Linked DNA regions of Homo sapiens: region 1 is linked to region 2. The links come from fine-mapping of genetic effects on gene expression. A gene starts in region 2. The other region holds a variant in brackets. All regions are shown on one strand. Distances are from middle to middle.

Region 1 (8,673 bases), 41 kb before region 2:
CAGAGACAGGCTCCGCAAAAGAGAACAGCCTCAAGTCCTTCGAGGGCTGTAAAAACGGCACCTCCAATCTCACACATCAATGTAATGAAACTCCATCCTAATGTCTACTGGCGGACCATGACAGAACACCGGGAGGTAAAGCCCTAGGAACACCGGCAGTTCCTGCCCATCCCACCGGCTTCAGGCTTTTCTCCTCCTGGAGAAACTGCTGGGCAGACATGAGCCACCTCGTGGCTCAACTGCAGAACTGCACGCTCCTTTTTTTTTTTTTTTTTTTTTTTGAGATGGAGCCTTGGTCTGTCGCCCAGGCTGAGAAGGAGTGCAGGGGTGCCATCTCAGCTCACTGCAACCTTCGCCTCCTGGATTCAAGCGATTCTCCTGTCTCAGCCTCCCAAGTAGCTGGGACTACAGGTGTGCGCCACCACGCCTGGCTAATTTTTTGTATTTTAGTAGAGACGGGGTTTCACCATGTTGGCTAGGAGATCTCCTGACCTCGTGATCCACCTGCCTCAGCCTCCCAAAGTGCCGGGATTACAGGCGTGAGCCACAGCGCCTGGCCTCCTTTCTAAAGGCCTCCTTGCTGGCCAAGAAAATAACTGGGGCAAGCAAACGCCAGCTTTGGACTGCTGCTCCCTGCCCCCCATTCCCTCCCCAGCGGCCTTAGTCTTCTCTTTCCCTAACTCCACCCTTCTGGGGACCCCACCACCCCCCAGAGGGGTTCATCTGCATTTTCTAGGTGTTCATGTCCTCTCTCTCCTGTTAAGTAAAACAAAGCAGTTTTTACCGAATAGAACTAAGACCCCACGTTGACCACGCCACAATTTAGGGGACCTTTAGTGTAGGATCAACAGAAAGCCAAGCCATGGAATGAGGGTGAAGGCCAAAGGGGTAGGGGGACAGCTGCCCAAGAAAGACCCCAGGGACCTGTGTGGCAGAAAAATTTGCAATGCTGTCTCAAAGAGGAGAATGGAAACTTTTGTCCACTGTTTGCAGGACACAGGACATCAGCTCAGGGCCTTGAAGGAGCCCTAGTCAGCGTGGTCCTGAGTCACCAAGTCTGTCAAGGCCAACAGGACTGAGACCTCCACAAACTGACGCTGAAGTCTAAGGACCTTTTTCCTTGTTCCACCCCACTGCGCCTCAGATGTTTCCAGGAGTTTCTGAAGGTCATGTTAACTAGAATTTACTCTTAAAACCAAAGACACAGAAATAAACGTTAAGCATAGTATTTGCATAGTCTTTTAGAAGAACATAGGAAACTAAAAGAATGATCAACCTAAACAGAATAATTTCCATAAGGAAAAAGAAAAGGTTGCCAGGCCAGGCACAGTGGCTCACACCTGTAATCCCAGCACTTTGGGAGGCTGAGACAGGCAGATCGCCTGAAGTCAGGAGTTCAAGACCAGCCTGGTCAACATGGCGAAATCCTGTCTCTACTGAAAATACAAAAATTAGCCAGGCGTAGTAGTGCGTGCCTGTAATCCCAGCTACTCGGGAAGCTGAGGCAGGAGATTCGCTTGAACTCAGGAGGCAGAGGTTGCAGTGAGCCATAATCACACTACTGCACTCCAGCCTGGGTGACAGAGCGAGACTCCATCTCAAAAAAAAAAAGGAAACGTGTCAAAGAGCTACCCTCCACAAGCACCAAGCACTGACAATCACAAGGACTTCTACTAGACAGGCAGAGTGGGTATTCCAATACTATTCAATTGTTCCACAGCACAGAAAAGAAAAAATTCTAAATTCTTTCTATGGAACAAAAAAATCATCAATGACACCTGACCAAAGATGGCACACACACACACACACACACACACACACACACACACACACTACAGTCCAACCCCACTAATGAATACAAAAATCCTAACACTAGCAAACAGAACCATTAAAATCTATTAACAGGGGCCAGGCGCTGTAGCTCATGCCTGTAATCCCAGAGTTTTGGGAGGCCAAGGCGGGTGGATTGCCTGAGCTCAGGAGTTTGTGACCAGCCTGGGCAACATGGTGAAACACCGTCTCTAATAAAATACGAAAAATTAGCCGGGTGTGGCGGCATGTGCCTGTAGTCCCAGCTACTCAGGAGGCAGAAGCAGGAGAATTGCTAGAATCCAGGAGGCAGAGGTTGCAGTGAGCCAAGATCGCACAAGTGCACTCCAGCCCGGGCGACAGAGCGAGACTCCGTCACTATATAGATAAATAAATAAATAACAGGGCTGGGCGTGGTGGCTCACACTTGTAATCCCAGCACTTTGGGAGGCTGAGGCAGGCAGATCACCTGAGGTCAGGAGTTCAAGACCAGCCTGGCCAACATGGCGAAACCCCATCTCTACTACAAATACAAAAATTAGCCAGGCATGGTGGCGAGCGCCTGTAATCTCAGCTAATCAGGAGGCTGAGGCAGGAAAATCACTTGAATCCGGGAGGCGGAGGTTGCAGTGAGCAGAGATTGCGACACTGCACTCCAGCCAGGGCGACAGAATGAGACTCTGTCTCAAAAAATAAAAATAAAAATAAAAAAAATTAGCCAGTATGGTGCTGTGCGCCTGTAGTCTTGGCTACCGAGGCAGGAGAATCACTTAAATCCCAGCAGCAGAGGTCGCAGTGAGCAGAGATTGCGTCACTGCTGCACTCCAGCCTGGGCGACAGAGGGAGACTGTTTCCAAAAAAACAAAACAAAAAGAAACCATTAACAGGCCGGGCACTATCGCTCATGCCTGTAATCCCAGCACTTTGGGAGGCTGAGGCAGGTAGATAACCTGAGGTCAGGAGTTCAAGATCAGCTTGGCCAACATGACAAAACCCAGTCTATACTAAAAATACAAAAATTAGCTGGGCACGGTTGTGGGCACCTGTAATCCCAACTACTCTGGAGGCTGAGGCAGGAGAATTGCTTAGACCAGGAGGCAGAGGTTGCAGTGAGCCAAGATTGTGCTATTGCACTCCAGCCTGGGTGACAGAGTGAGACTCTGCCTCATAAAAATACAAAAATCAGCCAGGTGTAGTGGCTCACACCTGTAATCCCAGCACTTTGGGAGGCCGAGGTGGGTGGATCATGAGGTCAGGAGATCAAGACCATCCTGGCTAACACAGTGAAACCCCGTCTCTACTAAAAGTATTAAAAAAATTAGCCAGGTGTGCTGGCGGGCGCCTGTAGTCCCAGCTACTCAGGAGGCTGAGGCAGGAGAATGGCGTGAACCAGGGAGGCGGAGCTGGCAGTGAGCCAAGATCGCGCCACTGCACTCCAGCCTGGGCGACAGAGCGAGACTCCGTCTCAAAAAAAAAGAAAAAAAATCAGCCAGGCGTGTTGGCACGCACCTATAGTCCCAGCTATTCCAGAGGCTGAGGCATGAGAATTGCTTGAACCCGGGAGGCAGAGATTGAAGTGAGCCGAGATCACACCACTGCACTCTACCCTGAGTGACACAGTGAGACTCCATCTCAAAAAAAAAGGAAGGAAGGAAGGAATTATTTAGGTTGAATTACACAGAAGTTTGTCACTGATCTGTGTTCTCGAACTAAGAAATATGAAGATGGAGGCTAAGAAATCATTTCTCTTAATATTATAAATAAGCAATTAACAAATACCTTGGGAAAAATAAGAATACAATAGAAGTGAGGAGTGTGACTTTCAAGATTACATTCTAAAAGATGGATTTCCCTCGTCTGTGCACTCTCTCTGGAACGCACAGCTCCCACACAGTACACTGCCCTATGGAGAGGCCCACAAGGCAAGGAACCGAGGGCAGCCTTGGGCCAACAGCCAACCAGCAAGTGAGGCCTCAGTCCAACAATGCATCAACGAGCTGAATCTTGCAACAATGATGTGGGTGAGACTAGAAGTAAATGCTTCCCCAGTTGATCCTTGAGATGACCACAGCCTCAGCCACCAGTTTGATGGCAGACTTGGAAGACCCTGAAGCAGAGAATCCAGCCAAGTTACGCTGGGATTTGTGATCCACAGAAGTTATGAGACAATGAATGTTTGTTGCTGTAAGCCAGTAAGTTTTGGGGTAATTTGTTACCTAGCAATAGATAACCAATACTTCTTTAACATGATAAAAACATCTATCTCAGGCCAGGCGCGGTGGCTTATACCTGTAATCCTAGCACTCTGGGAGGCTGAGGTGGGCGAATCACCTGAGGTCAGGAGTTCGAGACCAACCTGGCCAACATGGTGAAAACCTGTCTTTACTAAAAATACAAAAAATTAGCCGGTGTGGTGGTACATGCCTGTAATCCCAGCTACTTGGGAGGCTGAGGCAGGAGAATTGCTTGAAGCTGCGAGGCGGAGGCTGCAGTGAGACGAGATTGCGCCATTGCACTCCAGCCTGGGTAACAGAGTGAGGCTCCATCTCAACAACAACAAAAAAACATCTATCTCAGCCTAAGATCCAACATCCAGCTTGCCCTGAGGTATTCACACTGAACACATTCAGCTGCAGAGGTCACCCAGTGAACCAGGGCTGCTCACCTCAGGAGAGAGCAGCATCACCGGCCCTAGAAATCACTGGCAATGCCCCAGGGAAGAGGCAGGAAGCCAGGATCCTTAAATCTCATACTCAAGAATGTTGCAGGCCAGGCACAGTGGCTTGCAGATCCCAGCACTTTAGGAAGCCGAGGCAGGTGGATCACGAGGTTAACAGGTTGAGACCATCCCGGGCACCATGGTGAAACCCCTTCTCTACTAAAAATACAAAAATTAGCTGGGCGTGGTGGCGCG[C/T]GTCTGTAATCCCAGCTACTCCAGAGGCTGAGGCAGGAGAATCACTTGAACCTGGGAGGCGGAGGTTGCAGTGAGCCAATATCACGCCACTGCACTCCAGCCTGGTGACAGAGCGAGACTCCATCTCAAAAAAAAAAAAAAAAACAGAAGTCGAGTGCAGTGGCTTACATCTGTAATCCCGGCACTTTGGGAGGCCAAGGTGGGTGGATCACAAGGTCAGGAGATTGAGACCATCCTAGCTAACAAGGTGAAACCCCGTCTTTACTAAAAATACAAAAACTTAGCCAGGCGTGGTGGCGGGCGCCTAATCCCAGCTACTCGGGAGGCTGAGGCAGGAGAATGGTGTGAACCCGGAAGGCAGAGCTTGCAGTGAGCCGAGATCATGCCACCGCACTCCAGCCTGGGCGACACAGCGAGACTCCATCTCAAAAAAAAAAAAAAAAGATTGTTGCAATTTTACCTGGTGGATCCTGCCAAATGCAATAAAGAAGAAAAACAGAAAAAAACACAAAGAGAATATTGCAATTTGTCCACACATTTACTGAGTGCACCCTCTTCAGTGTGGCTTTTCTCTTCAGTAACCCTCTCCTGAAAGGAAGGCCCACAGACCTAGTCCTTTTTCCTTTTCTGTGTCCTCATGCCACATGGTGAGGGGGGCGCACAGAGAACCTCCATGCAATATATCCTTGTACCTCTGTGACGGTTAGAAATAACACCCAGAGGAGCCCACTGTCACATGAGTAACACAAAGAAGGCACCAGAAGAGATTCTCTGCTTTGAGGGACTGGTATCTTTCCTCCCAGCAGCTCTGACCAGAGGCTTCAAGCCCAGGAAAAAGTGTTGACCAGGCCAGGGCACATAAAGGGACCCCAAGGAAGGCAACAGTGCCCATGGGACCATCACCAACAGAGGAGCGAAACACGCAGACTGAAGCCTCGGAACAGATGAGAATAGACGAGAACACATGGAACCCCTCCAAGGCTCCAGGTTGTCCCTGGTCTGAAGACAAAGCTGAGGGGCCCCAGGATGGGAAACGGGAAGGAGGCAGCACAGGCACAGCCTCGGGAATGTAAGCTGGCCAAGCACAAAGCAAAGGGCAGCAGAGCTGAGAGCTCCTGGGAAGGAGATGGATGAGCCTGGCTGCGGACACAGGATGCTGAATTACCTGTCGAGCAGTCCATATGTGTCAGGCTGGGCTCATTGGTGGCTTTCATTTTCTTAGCAGTGTGCTCTGAGGTAGTGGGTAAGACCAAAGGGCTTGTGGCAGAAAAACAGGAAGCATTTACACCAAAGTTACTGTCTGGGACATGTTCAGCCTGCTCTATCTTCCTTTTCTGAGAGGGCAGAACAATGGAAGAAGGGATCACTGCCAATGCCGTCTGTGCTCTCCCAAGCAGGTGGCAGCCAGGGATGGAGTGCTGGAGCAGGAAATGGTCAATCCGGGCCTTGAGGGAGGGGTGAGGCAGGGGCTGAGAGTGCGGAGTAAAAGCTACCCCCGTGAAAGGGTCACTGGGCACTCGGCCCCATGTGGCTTCACTGCGGTTACACTTCTCCAGTGTGCTCTGGTCGATGACCTTGCCTGAGGGCAGCAGCATGGGACAAGGCATGATCTCCAGGGTGATGGGATCCAGGAACTCCTCAGGCACATCCTGAATGATCTCGGCCAGCTTCTGCAGGCTGGAGGGAGCCTGCTGGCTCTCAGGCTGGTCCCCAGGGTCACAGTCACTTTCCATGGGCAAGGCTGGAGCCTGCAGAGCCACATCCTGAGGCAGGTTCTCTGAGGTGACCAGCAGGATGCTGTCTATCACTTCCTGGGAGCAGGTCTTGGCCGGCTGACCCCACACTTCCAACCGCTTGATACAAGGGATACCGCCGCCTGTCACATGGGTGATACAGATCCTTAAGTGGGCCACGTGGCTAAGGGAAAGAGCCCCTTTATTCCAGAGCTCCTGGGCCACAACAGCAGGGGAGGGGAGTGTGGCTTCCATCGCGCCAAAAGGGGGCCTGGCCTTGAAGCCCCTGTGGCTAAACACCACTTGGCTCTGGTTTTTCAGTAAGACTTTGCCTACCAAGGTGAACGCCTCCTTGTCTGGGACAGATGGCTCAGCTGGGCCCAGGGTCCGGCACTGGGGCGTATTCCAAGACACTCTGCTAGATGAGGCAGATGTGTACATTTCCAGGCCAGTGACGTTCTGACCTCCCCCAGCTGTGAGGTCTATGTTGATCCTACAGATTTCCACATTAAAGGGAAATGAAACTGTCACATAGACTGGTGGCTTAATGAAATACTCTGTCCTGAAACCATGACTTCTCTTTGTGAGATCTTCAGAGATGAGATTTTCTACTTCGTAACCATCAGCTGATATCTAGATTTAATAAAAAACACAAGATACAATGATCCAAATGAAGACAACTTGTCACTTGTAAGAAAACTCTTAAGCCTGAGGTTCCTCGTTTTAAAATTTCCTCTATTAAACTGAATTGTCCCAGATCAGGGCACCCAAGATCAGATCAAAGGCCAAGGGCAATTGTCCCAGATCGGGGCCCCCAAGTATTGCCCAACCTTAAAAATATGAGCAACTGAGCTGGGCATGTTGGTACACACCTGTAGTCCCAGCTACTCAGGAGGCTGAGGCAGGAGGATCCCATTAGCCCAGGAGTTAGATAGGCCTGGGCAACATAGCAAGACCCCATATCCCTTTTCCCTGCCAAAAAAAAAAGCAAGCAACAAAATCCTGCCCAATCCAACCAAAACTCCCTTCAAAACAGTATCTGGGGAGAGAAGTGCAGGGGAGAGAAAGTATTTCTACCTTTGCTATGACTTTGACGAGACTGGAGATTGATCATCAAAGAACAAAGAGCACAGTGAAGAGGACCCTGCACAAAATGAGTCACAGCTCACCTCACCATGGCGCTGTGTGATTCTAGAGGTGAGCCTGCCCCATGCTTACCTAAATACCATCTGATGGAATCTAAAGTAACAAGAGCAAAAGTGCAGTAAGCCTGAATCAAATCCACACACACAAGGCAGGAAATGATGAAACACATGACAAACATAGCATATATTTATGTGTATATATTTGTTTTGTTTACCTTGTTGCAGTGAATTCTTGGTCTGAACTGTGGGAGGCAAAGATTTATTACCATCTTTGTGGCTGAGAGGATATCTTCCAAGCATCAGAAGCAGCCTTAAATAAGAAATAAAACTATGTATTAGAAAATGTAAAATTCAATTCTAAACTTTCAGAAGTTGATTCTTAAGAGAATCAAACAGGATGGCAACAAAAACTTGAACACACACACTCTCACGGTCCACACTGACTTTCCTTATATCCTATACATGATGTTGGGGAAAAATTAGTCACTGAAAAATTATAGAGAAGACTTCTATGGCAGGCTCAACAGGTTGGCAAAGACTGCCAGTTCTCTGGCCAACAGCTGTTCCAAAGACCCAATGGAGGCAAGGCCCATCAGCTGTGCTGGGGGTTGCCACAGGAAGGGAGTGGCAAAAGTATCTGAGCTCAGAGAAAGGACAGAGTGTTCGGAATGGAAAGGGTCATAAAAAATAATTATAGTGGTGGTAAGCATCCTTGTCATTTAATACTTGTCAATGCAATTATGTTTTCTTATTAAAATGAAAACAATGAGTCAAAAACATCATTATTGAGACATAGAAAATTTATTAGAGGCCAGGTGTGGTGGCTCATGCCTGTAATCCCAACAATTTGGGAGGCTGAGGTGGTAGGACTGCTTGAGCCCAGAAGTTCAAGACCAGCCTGGGAAACATAGCTGGTCTTGTTGTAGAGACCCCATCTCTACAACAAAACGTTGTAGGGATCTTGCTATGTCTGATATGCACCTGTAGTCACAACTATTTGGGAGGCTGAGGTGGATCACTTGAGCTCAGGAGTTCAAGGCTGCAGTGAGCTATGATCACACCACTGCATTCC
Region 2 (8,807 bases):
CTCCCCTTTAGGGGTCCTAACGAAACAGAGTAGAGCCTCAGACACTCCTGGACCCTGTCAGTTCCAAAAGGCAATGCCCAAACCTCCCTGAATGATGTGATTTCACAGGACTGAAGAATCTTACCTTTCTCCCTTCCACATACCGGTCTGAGCAGAGCCGAATAGCTTCATTTTAAACTAGAGTCTAGAAGTTAGAGGAGGGGGGCCAGGCAGAGGAAGGAGCGATGCTAACTGTAGACTGAGTATAAGACACCTTAAACACATACAATTTACCACTTACCAGATCTGATCCCTCAATTCTAACACTTTTCCTTTCTATGTCCCAATAAAATTGCCACAAATAAATGAACACTCCAACCCTATTCTTGTCTCAGCAAATAATTTGTTGAGCAACCTTAAGAATTAAAAAGGCAAAAAAACTGGCTAGACAGGTGGCTCATGACCATAATCCCAGCACTTTGGAAGGCCGAGCAGGCAGATCACGTGAGGCCAGGAGTTCAAGACCAGTCTGGGCTACATGGCGAGACCCTGTCTCTACCAAAAAAAAAGGGCAAAAAAACCGAACTTTCTCTAGGTGCTGAGGTATTCTGCTGAGAATCTACAAAACTTCAAAGCCCCTAGTGAGGGCTTAGAGACTGGCAGTAAGGACCTTAGCTGTTAATGTGGATGTTAACTGGGCTAGACTCTTCTGTGTTTCTGTTTCCACACGGGAGCAGGGCCTCAGAGAGGAGTCTACCAGTACTGCGAAGGTGAAGCACTAGTGCAAAGGTGTTTAGGTCAAGTTCAGTGTCACTCGCAGGTCTAAGCCAAACTAAAATTATTCAGTCTAGCAATCCATCCCTTCCTTTTTGTTCTAGACTCCATGCTGATAGGAGAAAAACAGCACATCACAAACATTTGTGAAACTTTTTCAGCTACACAGCCCTTCCGCTTCTCTTTTAAGACTCTGCTATTCCTCTATCAGAATGGCAAGAAGGATGTGGGTAGATATAGTATGACTAAGCCCTGTAGATGATTCTGTTAGAGCTACTGCTTTTAAAGGGTTTCATAAAACCCTGTCTTTAGAAAACCTCTCCATATAACAACAGGCAGTAGGCACTCATGTCCTCTCAGCCCATCTAAATGGGGCTTCTAGAGGAATTACAAAATCCAGGCAGGTAAAGAGAAGTAGCTGCATGCACACAGTCGTCATAAGAGAAAATTCCCAAATAAATGGTCCAAGTACCTATAACTGTTAGCTCAATAAACACTTGGTTTTATCTGCTTTTACAATTTGCAAGGCTGTATAGAGGCTGTATAGTACATACTTCAGACAAATAAAGAAGGAGTTTCAGAATTCTTTTGTTTTTTTTTTCAGACAGGGTCTCGCTCTGTTGTTCAGTCTGGAGGGCAGTGGTGCAATCTCCGCTCACTGCATCCTCGACCACTGCCCCCCACCTCTCACCCCGGCAACCTCCCGGGCGAGGATCGCTCAAGGATCTCAAACGATCCTCCCACCTCAGCCTCCTAAGTAGCTTGGACTACAAGCCCACCACCACGCCTGGCTACATTTTGTTTTTTTGTGTGTTTTTTTTGTTTTTTGTTTTTTTCGTAGAGACAGAGTTTCCCTATGTTGCCCCCAGGTTGGTCTCGAACTCCTGGGCTCAAGTAATCCTTCCACTTCGGCCTCCCAAAGTGCTGGGATTACAGGCATGAGCCACCGCACCTGACCTTAGAATTATTTTATATCAAAGTTGACTTATTCACATGATGAATGGCAAGGCCTTATTAGGGACTAAAAAAATAAACCAATGGATGGGGAAGAAAATCATACTGACTAATAAACATTAGACCTGCATAACTGCCAAAGGCCTCACTTTTTAAGTTATGTTATGCAGCACAGAGTCTTCAGATTTTATTTACTTATTTATTTATTTATTTATTCATTTATTTGAGACGGACTCTCGCTCTCTCGCCCAGGCTGGAGTGCAGTGGCGCGATCTCGGCTCACTGCACACTCCGCCTCCCGGGGTTCACGCCACGCTCCTGCCTCAGCCTCCAGAGTAGCTGGGACTACAGGCGCCCGCCACCACGCCCAGCTATTTTTTTGTATTTTTAGTAGAGACGGGGTTTCACCATATTAGCCAAGATGGTCTCGATCTCCTGACCTCGTGATCCGCCCGCCTTGACCTCCCAAAGTGCTGGGATTACAGGCGTGAGCCACTGTGTCCGGCCCAGATTTTATTTTAGTCTACCAGGTAGTAGCAAACTATCCAAGGACTTGCCCAGGACCATTCAGGTCAGTGAGCTACAGAATCTAGTTCTGGAAAGGCAGCCATTCTTACTATTCACAAAGTGTAGAAAACGTGAATTCAGATTCCAGCAGCAACAAATGACTGGAGCACAAAACGCCAGCCACAGTTGGTGCTAACGCAGCTGGCTATCAGCTCCACAGGATGAAGCACTGTCCAAGGGTCTGATCAGTGAAGCATCACCCAAGACTGATGAACACAGCTGATATGAGGGGACCCAAAGTTCCCTGAGTCAAGACAGAAGAGCTGTGTCACGGTTTGCACAGAAAGAGAAAGAGCAACTATTCTTACCCACGGAAAGAAAAAGGGAGAAGGCCATCAATACTACCCTTAGGCTTGTGCAACGAGAAACTGCTAAAAATGGGGGGAAGGTATATATCCTATCATACTGATGTTTACCGAAGACTCCGCATCCCAAATGCTAAGCAACATACTGTAGGGCCTTGCTACTCAGTGTGTGGTCTGCGTGCCAGAGGCTTCAGCCTCGTCTGGAATCTAGTTAGGAACACAGTTATCTCAGAACCCACCCCAGTCCTACAGAATCAGAATCTCTAAGCGATTCGCAGGCACATCAAAGTGTGATGAGAGGCGCGGCAGAATATCTGACTACATTCTCTTAACAGCACCGTGAGACAAGTACTGTTACGATCTCCATTTCACAGAGGAAAAAAAATCAAGGGTCAGATAAGCCCCCTGCCAAAGATCACAAACTCAGGAGCGGCGAGAGTCACTGAAGTTCTCACCACAGCCAGGCCTGCGAGAGGCACTGGCAACCCAGGCCAAGAGCTGAACAAGGCCTCGATGCGCTCCAGCTCTGGGCCGGCCGGGAGGACAGGAGGCACAGGCCAAGGCCCAGGACGGTCGTGAACGCGGAAAGAGGCCGCCGCGACCTCCTCCCCGGCCGCCGCCACTCACCTGATCCTCCCGAAGGTGGGCGCCGCAACACCAAACCGGGGACGCCGCGGGCGGCGGCGACACAGATACTGGCTCCTCCGGCGACTCCGAGCCTCACAGCCCCACTTCCGGCCAACTGCCCGCTACTTCCGCCTGCTGCGCGAGTGACGGATGCGGCCGAGGCTCAAAAGACTCTGTCAGCGTTTCCCAAGGACATTTTCCACTGGAGGACGTTGTTGAGGAGGCAGGGGGAGTCTAGGACCTGCAGAGGGAAAACACCTTCCTGGATGGATCGCTCTGGAAGTCATTAAGCAGCTTAGTCCCGGCGCGGTGGCTCACGCCTGTAATCCCAGTACTTTGGGAGGCCAAGGCGGGCGGATCACCTGAGTTCAGGAGTTCGAGACCAGCCTGGCTAACGTGGTGAAACCCCCGTCTCTACTAAAAATACAAAAATTAGCCGGGCGTGGTGGCGCACGCCTATAATCCAGCTATTCAGGAAGCGGAAGCAGGAGAGTCGCTTGAACCCGGGAGGCGGAGGTTGCAGTGAGCCGATATCTCGCCACTGTACTCCAGTCTGGGCACCCCTGTACTCCAGCTCTGGGACACAGAGCGAGACTCCATCTAAAAAAAAAAAAAAAAAAAAAAAAGTAAGTAGCTTAGACACATGTTCAAATCTGAGGACCACCACTCAGGGTTTTATGGCCTTGGAGAAGTCACATAAATTCATTCTTGTTATATTATTATTATTATTTTCATAGAGACGGGGATGGCAGTGTCTTCCTATGTTGCCCAGGCTAGTCTCGAACTCCTGGGCTCATGCAATACTGCCGCCTCAGCCTCCGAAAGTACTGGGATTACAGGTATGAGCCATCGCACCCGGCCCACATAAATTCTCTAAGCCTGTACAGTGAGAAAAACAATACATTTTTTTTTTTTTTGAGACAAAGTCTTGCCCCATTGCCCAGGCTGGGGTGCAATGGTGCAATCATGGCTCACTGCAGCCTCAACCTCCTGGGTTCAAGTGATCCTCCTGCCTCAGCCTCCTGAGTAGCTAAGACCACAGGCATGCACCACCACACCTGTCTAATTTTAACAATGCATTGGTCGGGTGTGGTGGCTCACACCTGTAATCCCCGGTGTTGGAGACCGGCCTGGCCAACATGGTGAAACCTCGTCTCTACTAAAAATACAAAAAAAAATTAGCGGGGCATGGTGGCGTGCACCTGTAACCCCAGCTACTTGGGAGGCTAAGGCAGGAGAATCACTTGAACGCAGGAGGTAGAGGTTGCAGTGAGCCGAGATTGCACCACTGCACTCCAGCCGGGGCAACAGTGAGACTCCATCTTTTTTTTTTTTTAATGCATTTATAATAGAGATGTATCTGTAAAGTGCTCTCAGGAAAAGAGCTAGTGACATGATGGATAGATGAGCCTGCTGAGAGAAATGGATGTGGAGCTGGGGCTTAGCGAGGCCAGAGCTATGGAGCATGAGCCAGGGTGATTCTCCACCACCCTAAGAAGGAGGGCTGGGTCCTACTGGGTACATATATTGACACAGCTGTCAGTATAGGTACCTAGACAAGAAAGAGACTCTACTAAACCTCTACCTATCAGAAAGTCCTGGCCCCAGGCTGCCATTCCTGAGGGCACTTGAGATCTGCTGATCAGGGTCTTCATATCTTGTCAATGCCTTGGCTCTAAGGGGTGTGAAGGAGAGCTGAGAAATCATGCTCCCTCCAGGGCCTATCTTGTAGGGAAGACAAAATCAATGTAGGAAGAACACGTCCCTGCCAGGAGGGGCAAGCCTGACATCCCAACTCCTGAGCTCTGGAGACAGCGCTGTTTGAATATCTGGAGCCCCAGACCACAGACACCACTGCTTAGGGAGGGTTCTCTCCCTCAGGCCAGACCAGGGCAAACACTATTCATTGTTATGACTCTGTCCTTGCCAGTAGAACCCAGAGAAAGCAGAGAGCCTGCCCCCAAGGAATGAACCATGTTTGTTCCTAGGCAGCCATGACAATCCTGTTTCTCTTTGTAATACTCAAATTCCCATTCTCCCTTGAAGTGGGAGGAGCATGTGGCTCAGTTCTGGCCAACAGGACTTAAAGGGAAGGGTCCTGGGAGGGCTCTGGGAAAGCTTTTACTTTTCATGATAAAGTAGGGCCGCCTCAATGTCTTCATGGAGCTGTGGCAGCCACTTTGTGGTAAGGAGGGAACAACATGCCAAGGATGGAACAGTGGGAGGATGAAAATCTAGGTCCCCGAGGATCCAACAACCATGACACCACCTCCGGATTTCTTGTCAGGTTGGGGAAAAATAAACCACTCTTTGAGGTCCTTTGATTACTTACAGCAGAGTGCATTCTTGATTGTGTGCTTTGAGAGGATGACAGAGGAACTGTTGTAAAGGGAAGCTCTCTGCTGTGCAGCACGCTTGGGTCCCTTTTGCCTTTGGGGCTTCGCCATTAATTGCAAACCTGTTCCCAGTCTTCACTTCTATCCATTCAGCCCGCAAACATCTACCAGTTGCTGTAAGGTGGCTTAGGCGACTGCAGGCTGCATCTAGCTGTCCTGCGTCACCTGTTTTCTGGCTAGCAGCTTAGTGTCCAGATTCTGAGCTGGAGCCAGCTTTTAACCCCTTTGGCAACAGTCTGAGCTGAAGAGAAAGCCCCACTGGGCATATACATGGCACCACGACTCTTCCCGGGCAACGTGGCAGAACTTGGGCTTTGGGCCAACCTCCTAGCACGGCCCAGTGAGCACCTCCAGTCTCATGCCTCCTCTGGGAAATCTGTTTACTCCAGCTTTGCCCCCATCCCCCACCCGGGCCTCACCTCCCGCACCTGCAAAGACACAAGCAGGCCAAAGAATACCACTCAAGAGGCTTTTTCCGTTTTATTTCTTTGGGAAAGGAAAACAAAAAGTCTTTCCATCACATATGGTAGAGATATATATTTATATATATTTATATATAATTTCTTTTGTGGTTGGACGTCCCAAAGCTGAGTCTGTTCATATTTTTTTCTATTTTTTTCTTACTAATGCCTTCTCTTCTCCCTGCCCCTGTGGCCTAGGCCCAGGTTCTAGGGCAGGTACAGTGAGGGGTGAATGGAATGGGCAGTGGTCGCCAGGATGGCCTCCCACCCAGCTCAGAGACCTGGTGAGGACCACCCAGAAGGGCTGTGCAGAGGGTTAGAGGCCACACAGAGGGGCACTCATGTTTTTGTGGGGGATGCACAGCTCATTAAACAGTCACCAGTCATGGGAGGAGGCTGGTCAGGGGCTAGGGGACTTGCTCACAGTAGTTGCCAGCTCTCTCCACCTTGCCCCCCAAAACTCAGTCTTGGGGGTGGGAGGAAGAGAGTGAAAAAGAGAGAGATATAAGGGCTGAGGGCCAAGCCTCCTCCAATTTTTATTGCTGGTGAATTAGAAATTTGCTTTTCCCTTCCTGTCTTGGGGAGATAGACTCTGAGAGGGCCCCAAGAGAAGCAGCTGACATTGGCTGACCTAACCCCTCATGCCAGGCCTACCCTGGGCAGGTGCTGAGCCACCTCAGGGCGCCAGGAACCTCTCAGGTCAGCCTTGTTCTTCAAGGGCAATCACATCCAACTCTCCCCCCGCCCCCAAAACAAGGGCCTCCGGCTCAGACTTGGGCCAGTGGAGCTGGGAAGTGGGCAGTGCACCAAAGGTCAAGCGGAATTTTCTATTGGAAGAAAAGGTGAGACTTTGGGGAAGAGACTGCCTAGGAAGATGATGTGCTGAGCATGAAAGCAGAAAGAGGCTGGGGGAATAGAGTGCGGGAAGACATCGCAGACACTCGTCTGACCTCAGAAACTGGGCGAGGAGAGTGCCTGAGAGGCAGGTAGCACTTAATAGCTGTGTTAGAGCCGGACAGTGGTCCTGGGTGTGGGGTCAGCCAAGCAGATGGGGCTGTTGCCCTGCGGGATCCTGGCCAGAAGGGTGAGGGTAGAGCCGAGAAGCCGTCAGGCAACGCTTCCCAAGAACAGGAGGACAGATCTTCCCTGGGTGCTGGACTTCCAGCCCCAGTCCTCCCCTCCCGCAACACACACACAGGGACACACACTCACAACCAGGCCAGGCTCTGAGGCCTGAGTCCAAGAGATCTTGTTGGGGGAGGGGCTGGGCAGGTAGCCCTCTCAGCCAAAGGCAGGCCATCTGCTCCCACTTGTCCTGCCAATCTGCCCAGGGAGGGAGAGCACTGTAGGAGGGAGAGAGGTCTGGAGCCCAGGCTCTGTCAGTTTCAGCAAACCTGGTGCAGGCCCCCTCAGGCTCCATGGCCTAGGAGGTGAGCACAGAGAGCATCACTAGACACAGGGTGGCCAACAGTAGCAGCCCAGGCCTCCAGAAGGACTGGGGCACCTTATGGCACTGCACGTCTGCTGCCTCCATCTCCAACAAGGGGGTGCCGAGAAAGGGAGCATGACTCCCCCACCACCTAGGATTGCCCCCACTCACCCTGCCCTCCTCCTATTCCCTCCTTTTAGGGGGGTCCAAGTGGGCTGCCACGGGGGCAGTGCTGGAGCTAGGAGGGCAGGTGGGGAGGGAGGAACCTGGTCACAGCTGCTTAGAGAACCTCTTTGGTCTGGGGTTATGGGGTCTATGGGGAAGAGAGATGGAGGGGAGGGGACACTGGGGACTCTGGCCTTTTGACAGGACATGTGTCAAAATGCCGAGTGCCCAGGTCGATCAGATTTCTGTGGACTCAATGCGCTCGAGGCGGGAGGGGGTCCAGGCCTTCTTCTCCTCGCCATGCTGGGGAGTGGGCGTGCTTGCACCCCCTGCGGCCCCGCGCTCCCGCAGCCTGCGCTCCAGCTGCTGGTTGCGCTGGTACATCTCCACGTAGCTCAGCTGCAGCTGCTTCTGGTACTCGATCACCTTCTCCTTCTCCTCCAGCCACACGCGGCGCTCCTCGGCGAAGCTGGCACCCTGGCGCTCCCGGGCCCGCCGCTCAGCCGCCAGCTCGGCCTGCAGCCGCCCCACCTCCCGCCGCAGGGCCCGCGTCCCGCTCTCCCCGCCAGCCTCCGCCTCCCCGTCCACGGAAACCAAGGAGGCGGCAGCGGCCACCCCGGCCTGACGGCGCATCTTAGCCTCGTCGCTCTCGCAGGTGGCCAGAGCATCCTGTGGCTCGGCCGGGTCCACGGGGGTCAGCGCCGGCTTGAGGCAGGCGGCAGGCAGCTCGCCTTCGCCCAGCTCCAGGCTGGCCTGCTTGCTGCTGAAGGAGTCCCGCAGGCTGAGCAGCTGCTCCTCCTTCTCCCGCAGCGAAGCCCGGCCCTCCCGCAGCTGCGAGCGCAGTCCCACGATCTCACTCAACTTCTGCGACACATCCGCCTGCGAGTCCTTCAGCTGCTGCTTCAGGAGGGAGATCTCGCCAGCCTTCTGGCACACCTGGGCAGGAACAGGTGAGAGGAGAAGCCAGGTAAAGGCAGAGCTCTGCTCACCCCAACCCAGCTACCAGATCTGGAGCCAGGGGCACCAAGCTTCCCGGGGCTGCAGGCTCAGCCCCTCATCAGCAGCGACGCACCCGATTCCCTGCCTGGACTCAAGATGGACATGTCTCACCCAGCGGATGGCCTCGGGTCCTCACAGACACTCCCAATTG

The links. PIP is the estimated chance that this variant, and not a neighbour inherited with it, causes the effect.
Region 1: its variant is fine-mapped to the expression of UBOX5 in whole blood (INTERVAL, PIP 0.98).

The regions. Positions count from the first base shown.
Region 1 is chr20:3,115,496-3,124,168 of GRCh38, forward strand. UBOX5 (U-box domain containing 5) reads right to left here. Exons shown (of 5, transcript NM_014948.4): 2 at 7,817-7,911; 3 at 5,889-7,089. The coding sequence starts at 7,870. The region is part of intron 5 of UBOX5-AS1 (UBOX5 antisense RNA 1); the gene reads left to right. Among named protein-coding and RNA genes, the nearest start is that of UBOX5-AS1, 13 kb to the left of the region's middle. The variant C/T (reference allele first, on the strand shown) is at 4,724.
Region 2 is chr20:3,156,560-3,165,366 of GRCh38, forward strand. It overlaps UBOX5 (U-box domain containing 5), which reads right to left and starts at 3,306. Exons shown (of 5, transcript NM_014948.4): 1 at 3,207-3,306. It overlaps FASTKD5 (FAST kinase domains 5), which reads right to left and starts at 3,306. Exons shown (of 2, transcript NM_021826.5): 1 at 3,207-3,306. It overlaps LZTS3 (leucine zipper tumor suppressor family member 3), which reads right to left. Exons shown (of 5, transcript NM_001365618.1): 5 at 6,058-8,593. The coding sequence ends at 7,895.